Homo sapiens: one gene and its partner. Each later gene encodes a partner of the first gene's protein in a complex. Each region holds a gene or a part of one and is shown on either strand. Other genes may lie near its edges. The genes, in order: ATP2B4 and CALM2.

What was found.
Region 2: the proteins of ATP2B4 (region 1) and CALM2 are in contact, whole or in part, in an NMR structure (PDB 2KNE), measured with the Homo sapiens proteins. Residues at the interface, in NP_001675.3 of Homo sapiens: Leu1086, Gly1089, Gln1090, Leu1092, Trp1093, Phe1094, Gly1096, Leu1097, Gln1101, Ile1104, Lys1105, Lys1108, Ala1109, Phe1110, His1111; in NP_001734.1 of Homo sapiens: Leu33, Leu40, Met52, Ile53, Val56, Ile64, Met72, Lys76, Met77, Lys78, Thr80, Glu84, Glu85, Leu113, Glu115, Met125, Glu128, Ala129, Phe142, Met145, Met146, Ala148.

What each region holds. Positions count from the first base shown.
Region 1 is NC_000001.11:203,633,163-203,636,982, forward strand, and holds part of ATP2B4 (plasma membrane calcium-transporting ATPase 4), read left to right. Parts: intron 1-3,820. UniProt on the Homo sapiens protein: Calcium/calmodulin-regulated and magnesium-dependent enzyme that catalyzes the hydrolysis of ATP coupled with the transport of calcium out of the cell. By regulating sperm cell calcium homeostasis, may play a role in sperm motility.
Region 2 is NC_000002.12:47,169,966-47,173,785, forward strand, and holds part of CALM2 (calmodulin-2), read right to left. Parts: exon of another isoform or gene 2,495-3,820; coding exon of another isoform or gene 2,449-2,494; exon of another isoform or gene 800-2,448; coding exon 769-799; intron 1-768. UniProt on the Homo sapiens protein: Calmodulin acts as part of a calcium signal transduction pathway by mediating the control of a large number of enzymes, ion channels, aquaporins and other proteins through calcium-binding. Calcium-binding is required for the activation of calmodulin.

The DNA of each region.
Region 1 (3,820 bases):
CCAACCAGAGGTGAAACACATTAAGCATTCCAAAGGATAATGGTAATAGATTGTAACACATTGAATATTAAAAATTCCTTGAGTCTATTTTGACAGTTGACATGGACAGGGAGGAGCAGGGAGGGAAAACTCTGAACAGAAATGCCAACGAGGCCAGACACAAGGCCTCACTCTGTAATCCTACCACACTGGGAGGCCAGGGCAGGAGGATCGCTGGAGCCCAGGCGTTTGAGGCTCCCATGAGCTCTGATCATGACACTGCACTCTAGAATGGGTGATAAAGCAAGACTCAGTCTCAAAAAATTAAAAAGTAAATGCCAGTTGGGCGCAGTGGCTCATACCTGTAATCCCAGCACTTTGGGAAGCCCAGGCAGGTGGATTACTTGAGGTCAGGAGTTTGAGACCAGCCTGGCCAACATGGTGAAACCCTGTCTCTACTAAAAATATAAAAATTAGCCGGAAATCGATTGAACTCAGGAGGCAGAGGTTGCAGTAAGCCAAGATTGTGCCACTGCACTTCCAGTGGGAGACAGAGCGAGACTCCATATCAGATAAATAAATAAATAAATAAATAAATAAATAAAGTAAATGCCAACTAATAAAATCTAGTAGTAATGACAAGATTTTTCTTTAAATTTAATTTTATGTGAGGCTGAGGTGGGTAGATCACCTGAGGTCGGGAGTTTTAGACTAGCCTGACCAATATGGAGAAACCCCGTCTCTACTAAAAATACAAAATTAGCCGGGCGTGGTAGTGCATGCCTATAATCCCAGCTACTCGGGAGGCTGAGGCAGGAGAATCGCTTGAACCTGGGAGGCGGAGGTTGCAGTGAGCCAAGATCACACTATTGCACTCCAGCCTGGGCAAGAAGAGTGAAACTCCGTCTCAAAAAAAATTTTTTTAAATTTAATTTTAATAGAAAAATACTAGTTTCATATATGTATGGGGTGTAATGTGATGTTTTGATATATGCATACATTACGGAACGATTAAGTCAAACTATCAACATATCCATCACCTCACACATTTATCGTTGTTTTTGTAGTGTAAACATTTAAAATCTCTCTTAGCAATTCTGAAACATGCATTACATTAACTATAGTCACCATGTAGTGCAGTAAATCTCAGAAACATTCCTTCTGTCTACTGAAACTTTGCATCTTTTAGCCAACATTATCTTTATTTACCTACCTATTTTTAGAGATAGGGTCTCACTCTGTCAGCCATGTTGGAGTGCAGTGGCCCATAGCCTTGAACTCCTAGGCTCAAGCGATCCTCTTGCCTCAGCCTCCCAAAGCACCAGGATAATGGGTGAGACACAGTGCCAGACTGGAACTTTAAATTGACCAGTTTGCAGCCTCTACTATAATAGCTGATTTAGTCTAGCGTTTAATGGATACTAAAACCACTGGGTGAAAGATTGGTCTTAGCATATCTTAGTTTGGGCTGCTAAAACAACATCATAGACTGGGTGGCTTAAGCAACAGAAATGCATCTCTTTGTTTGTTTGTTTGTTTTTGAGACCGGGTCTTGCTTTATCATCCAGCTGGAGTGCAGTGGCACAATCACAACTCACAGCAGCCTTGATCTCCTGGGCTCAAGCTATCCTCCCACCTCAGCCTCCCAAGTACCTAGGACTACAGGCGCATGCTATCATGCCTGGCTAATTTTCATATTTTTTGTAGAGACGGGGTTTCACCGTGTTGTCCAGATTGGGCTCGAAATCCTGGGCTCAAGCAATCCACCTGCTTCAGCTTCCCAAAGTGCGGGGATTACAGGCATGAACCACCGCACCCGGCCCCATTTATTTATTTATTTATTATTTTTTGAGATGGAGTTTTGCTCTTGTTGCCCAGGCTGGAGTGCAATGCTGCAAACTCAGCTCACCGCAACCTCCGCCTCCTGATTTCAAACGATTCTCCTGCCTCAGCCTCCTGAGTAGCTGGGATTACAGGCATGTACCACTACACCCGGCTAATTTTGTATTTTTAGTAGAGACGAGGTTTCTCCATGTTGGTCAGGCTGGTCTCAAACTCCCAACCTCAGGTGATCCACCCTCCTCAGCCTCCCAAAGTGCTGGGATTGCAGGTTTGAGCTATCACACTCAGCCCCCATTTATTTTTGAAACAGGGCCTTGTTCTGTCACCCAGACTGGGGTGCAGTGGTGCAGTCATAGCTCACTGCAGCCTCAAACTCCCAGGTTCAAGCAATCCTCCGACCTCAGCCTCCCAAGTAACTGGAGCAGGTGCATGCCACCATGGCTGGCTAATTTTTTTGTTGTTATTGTTGTTTTGTTTTTTTGTAGAGATGGATGACATAGGAAGACTCCACCTCTACAAAATAAAAAATTAGCTGGGCATGGAGGCTGTGCACCTGTCTGTAGTCCTAGCTACTCAGCAGGCTGAGGCAGGAGGATAACTTGAGGCTGCAGTGAGCCGTGATCATGAAACTATACTCCAGCCTGTTGACAGAGTGAGACCCTGTCTCAAAAAAAAAAGGTGAAACTAAGTAAAGGGTCTGCAGTTGTTTATTGTGCTATTTTTTTCAACCTTTCAGGTTTGAAATTTTTCCAAATACTTAGCCAGAGAGAGAAGTCCATGCCAGAGGCACTCCTAGATTCCTGGTTTCTTCTCACTTTATCTGCAAAACTCCTGACCAATAGGAGTGTCTTTTCTAAGCTCTTGGGTGCTGAGAGTCCCCATGGAGCACACAGAGGGATCTTCTAAGAAAGTAAGGTCCTTTAGGAAGCCTACCTTCCCACCCTCACTGCTCCCCACCCACAGCCTCTCCTGTCCAGACAGGAGCACCTGGGCCCTGATGAGTGGGCCACAAAGGGAGGTAGGATGACAGGCATTCTCCCACCATGCCATGGGGCCAGCTGAGGGAACCTGGGGACTGAGGGCTTCCAGAGTCACCCACCTAACTTTTGAGGAGACAGGTCCCAGGCTGTAAGAGAAGAAATTCACCAAACAGCCCAGAGATTGTTGCTGACCAAACCTTTAGTGTCCCTTAGAATTCTCTAATTAGGTGATTCTGAAAGAAACCAGCAAGCAGTGCCTGCCTGGAGCCTTCATGCCTGAGCTAAGCAAGGCCTTCTAGGCACTCCCTTGGCAAGGGCAGCACACCTGGCTGTCCTGTCATTGACCCAAATCATTGTGCTACCCACCCCCGCCTCCCCATCCTGATCGTCGCTCTGGAGAGAGATTGAGTTTCCAGGATGGCTTCTCTCTCTCTTTTTCTCCCTCTCTTCTCCTGGAAACCCTGGGGCTAGGCCCTACATGACTCAGGGCTCTTTTTACGTAGGCTCATGTAGGTGACGGCTATTAATCCTTTAGTCAATTCCCCTTCTGTGTTGGTGAGGGAGCCTGAAAGAGCGGGAGCCAGGAAGTTGGAAGGGGGCAGACAGGGAGGAGTTTGTTCTAGTGGGCTGCCAGGCTTGCCAGAAGAGCACGGGACTGGGAGTCAGAAAACTGGTAATCTGGACTCTTGTCTGCTGTGTAACCTTGATTGAAGCAGGGGATATCTCTGGGCCTTCATCAACTGCACTGTTACATGAAACCAAGTTTGGACATACAGACATTCCTGATTCAAGACCCTCCTCTTCTATAGAAGACAAAGGAGTAAAACTCTCAATGCCCAAACCAAACTCTTTTATCACAGATAGAGTCTAGCACAATGTAACAATTTGCAGCCAAGTCCCATCCTTCTGCCCAGGATGACCAGGGGAAAAGAGGCCAAAAAGCATATGGCTTTGAACTGCCACCATTGATGTTTGGGAGTAGAACAGGTTCTAAGATTTCCCACCTCCACCTGCCGGGA
Region 2 (3,820 bases), on another chromosome or scaffold:
AAAAAAAAAACAACTCCGGCAAGGGGGGAAAAAAAAGTTTCCCCAACATTGACATTAACCAGCCATCTCAATGTACAAGGATAAATCAAAAGTATTAATGTTCTATGGCATGGCATAAAGAGAACATGACATCAGGTTTTATGTAATAATTTTGCATACTTCCATAGCAAACTAAAAGGGACAAGATTTAAGCGGCTTCATTTCAACAGCTGTCACTGTTTTTTAAGAGAAAAATCCACATTGCTACAGTGACATTTATAGAATAGAATGCCAACTTCTTAAATTTTTTCACTTGAGAAATGGTTATTCCCTGACTGATTATATATGCAATTCTTAGGTTAAAATGTTAGCTAATTTTAACTAGGGTAAATTCAATTGTTCCTTTTTTGATTCTCCATTTCAAGTTGCCTTAGTTACTTCTTGGCCTCCTTTTCTAGCGTGTTAGCTAGCCCAGAATTCCTGTTTTATACTAAGGTAGTCTTCAGAAAACAAAACAAAGACCACCACTACACCACAAGGCTCCAAAGTATATCCACGCAGACTAAAATACATGTCTTTAACTACAATTAGCCCTGCACATCTTCCATCGGCAAGTTTACAATCCCACTTGCCAAAGCAGGTTGAATTACTGTATTATATTATACCCATATGTTAGTATCCATGACATATACCAAAGTCAATTATTTCATACAAGTCTCTTATTCTGACGTTGGCTATTCAATTTATAATAAGAATCTAATGGGTACAATCTAGCTGAGTATTTCTCACCTGCAATCTGCTCTTCAGTCAGTTGGTCAGCCTACAAAGAGATCAAAGAGGAAGGTTAGTGACTTGAGAGTATGTAGATTAGCAGTTACAGAAACAAGTTTAAAACCTTTCAAGGGTTACCATGTACTGTTTCATTTAGTTCCAGCAACAAACACATCTGGATAGAAAATGCACACATCTAGTTTCTCTTATCTTCAAAGCTAAGCTGTCTTAACTCCAAGTTTAAGATATACAAATACTTCAGAATATTTTTGAAAATATACTTTAGAATCCAATAGAAACATTGCTTCCTTTTTCAACGTTAGAATAGCTAAACTTAAGCTCACTTCTATTCCAGATATAAATCACCAGAAATTCCCACTGAATCAAAATGCTTCAGGCTCACAAAATGAAAATTACTCCCACAAATGGTTAAACACATTGTTTTGAAATTAAAGTGATTAAAAAAAAAAAAAGGCACAAACTTTTATTCCTTCTCACCCAGCAGGCAAAATGCAAAGAATCCAGAGCTCTGAACTACAGTACTATAATATTTACCAAATGTTTGAAAGTTCAGCCATCCATTTTCTCTTGGTTTTTAAAATCCCAAAGTAAGCCCAAGGCTTGTGATGTTTTTTTAATAGCACTTGGTTTTCTTCAGAAAATATTTTCTGCCATTTGCTAAAACCCATTATAAATTTTATCCTTATTCAATCTTAATAATAACCTTACAGTGGTATTATCCCCTATCTTACAGATAAGGAATGAGGCTAGGGTTAAGTGGGATTGGGGCACAGAAAATTAGTAGAACAAAGATAAAGCACTAAGGTGTCAGACATACCCAGTAACTTTTAGCTTTTAATTCAGAGCACCGTAATATATAAAGATGATTGCAAAATATCCAGACTCCTTGTTGTATTCTTTGAACATGCACTTTCTTTCACTGCTTATTAGTATATACATCCATGAAGCAACTGCTTATGGGGTATTGAGAAGCACAGACAAGAAATAGCCTCCTATCTAAAATCCCTACCAACATGGGAGTCAAGTATACAATGATTAATCCATTCATTTATTTATAGGTAAAAGAAAAATAAACATTGCCTGGCTTCATTCTTTTTAAATGAACACACCCCTGGAAAAAGTAACACCTTAATGTGGAACACATTTTCTCTAGGGCACATGAGAAAATTCAAGAAGGAATCCAGAAAGCAGTTTATTTTCCCTGCTCAACAATTTTTGTTTGACCATGATGTAAATCAAATTCATTAAAAAAAAAAAAAAAAAAAAAAGCTGGTAACGTAAAATTGAAGAGCCAATAATTAAGTTCAAATACAGAGTTTGTAAAATAAAAAATGTATCCACTTTTATCCCTAAAGTCCAAATCCTCCGCCAACAAATATTTGGTGTGAAGTCAGTCACAGATTGTTTACCCAAGGAATAAGGTTTAAAATCCAGTAAATCTGAGTTATTTACTTTGTATTAATAGAAGCTACATTACTTCAGTTTATTGCATTTTGCAGGACTTCCACCATTTCTGAAAGGAAGGGCAACCTGGCATGCGTGGCGTGGGGGGAAAGCATCAAGTTCTGAGTCACAGGCCAGTATCCCAGCCCTGCCATTTAATAGCTGTGTGACCTTGGACGTGGTACTCCTCCTCTCAGTCAACTTCATTTGTAGCACAAGAATAACAATACTTACCTTGCAGGGTTGTTGTGCAAAGTGAGATGCTATGTACAAAGCTAACCTAAAGAGTTAAATGATAACCATTATTTCATATAAATTAACAAAGAACCTACAATGTTAAATATCAACCTGACTAGCTCAATTTCCACACCGAATGTAGACATGCATGGCATTTATTAAGCCCTTTATGGTAAGCTTACTCTATTCAATGTTAACTTTGTTTAAGCTGAGAAAATTTATGCAAACTAAATCCACAAGGTGCAACCCAGCGACAGATGCAGCGGACATCACTTTAAGGCTAAAAAAAAGTTGAGCTAAATGTGTGGCAGACACTGCAGCCTGTGTGAAAGTTGAAGGATCCCGTACTCTGTACAGGAAGGGAGACAGGTTCGTTCTCTCTACATGGGTTGGGGGGGGGGGGGGGGTGGGAAATGGGACTTTGGGAAGGCTACTATATATGAAACATGAGAAGCCTTAGGAAGAAACGAGGATGTTAGCAATTTAGGAACCACTGTCCAATTTTGCTTGGAAAGTCAAAATTTAGGGACCTCATACCATCTTGTCTAACTCCCTACCTCCAAGCAAATGCAATCTTGGAAGAGATCACAAAAATGAGCTTCAAGGAATGAATTAAGCACCCAAGAGACCAAATTACTCACATAACCTGAAAGCTCTCAATTTTGCTTGGAAGGTTGAGAAGCTTTTTGTATTACTTATCCAGAGTTCAGGTTTTAGAATAAACTTTTACCAGCAATATCCAGATTAAAGCCTACTATAAATCAAGAAGACTTCCTAGCACTAACTTTCCCAACTGCTACAAAGGCGAATAAATTTGGTTCTTCCTTGTTTCCAGGGAGTGCCATTTTCTTAGAAGAACCAGAAGAATTATACTTTTGGGAAAACTCAAGCTCATTAACATGTATGTTTATCTCAGTAAAGTGAAGAAGAATTCACTAGAGAGATGACTTGTTCTTACTCCCTTATTTCTGTAGCTATTGACATAATTCTTCCCACTGCTCTTGCCACTCCAGAGAAAGTTCCTAGGCATTAGTATACTCTCAGGTTCCTCCCTAGACCTCCTGTACTAGAATGTTCATTTTGGAGAACCATAGGTGATCTGTCAACACTAAGGAGCACGACCCCGTATTACATTAGTGACCTGAAGTGAATACATTATGTACCTATCAAACATTTCCTACATGCCATTCAAAAGTATGCATGAATACTGTTGGAGTTTATCTAGTGAAAGGTGGTGTTCTTATCTGAATAAATGTGTGAGCCCATAGGCTTGAAATGGAACGCAAACTGCTATCCTTCATCCATTCCTGTCTGTTCATTCCCATCAGGTGCTACTTTGATACAACAAGGATTCCTATATGAAGTTTTT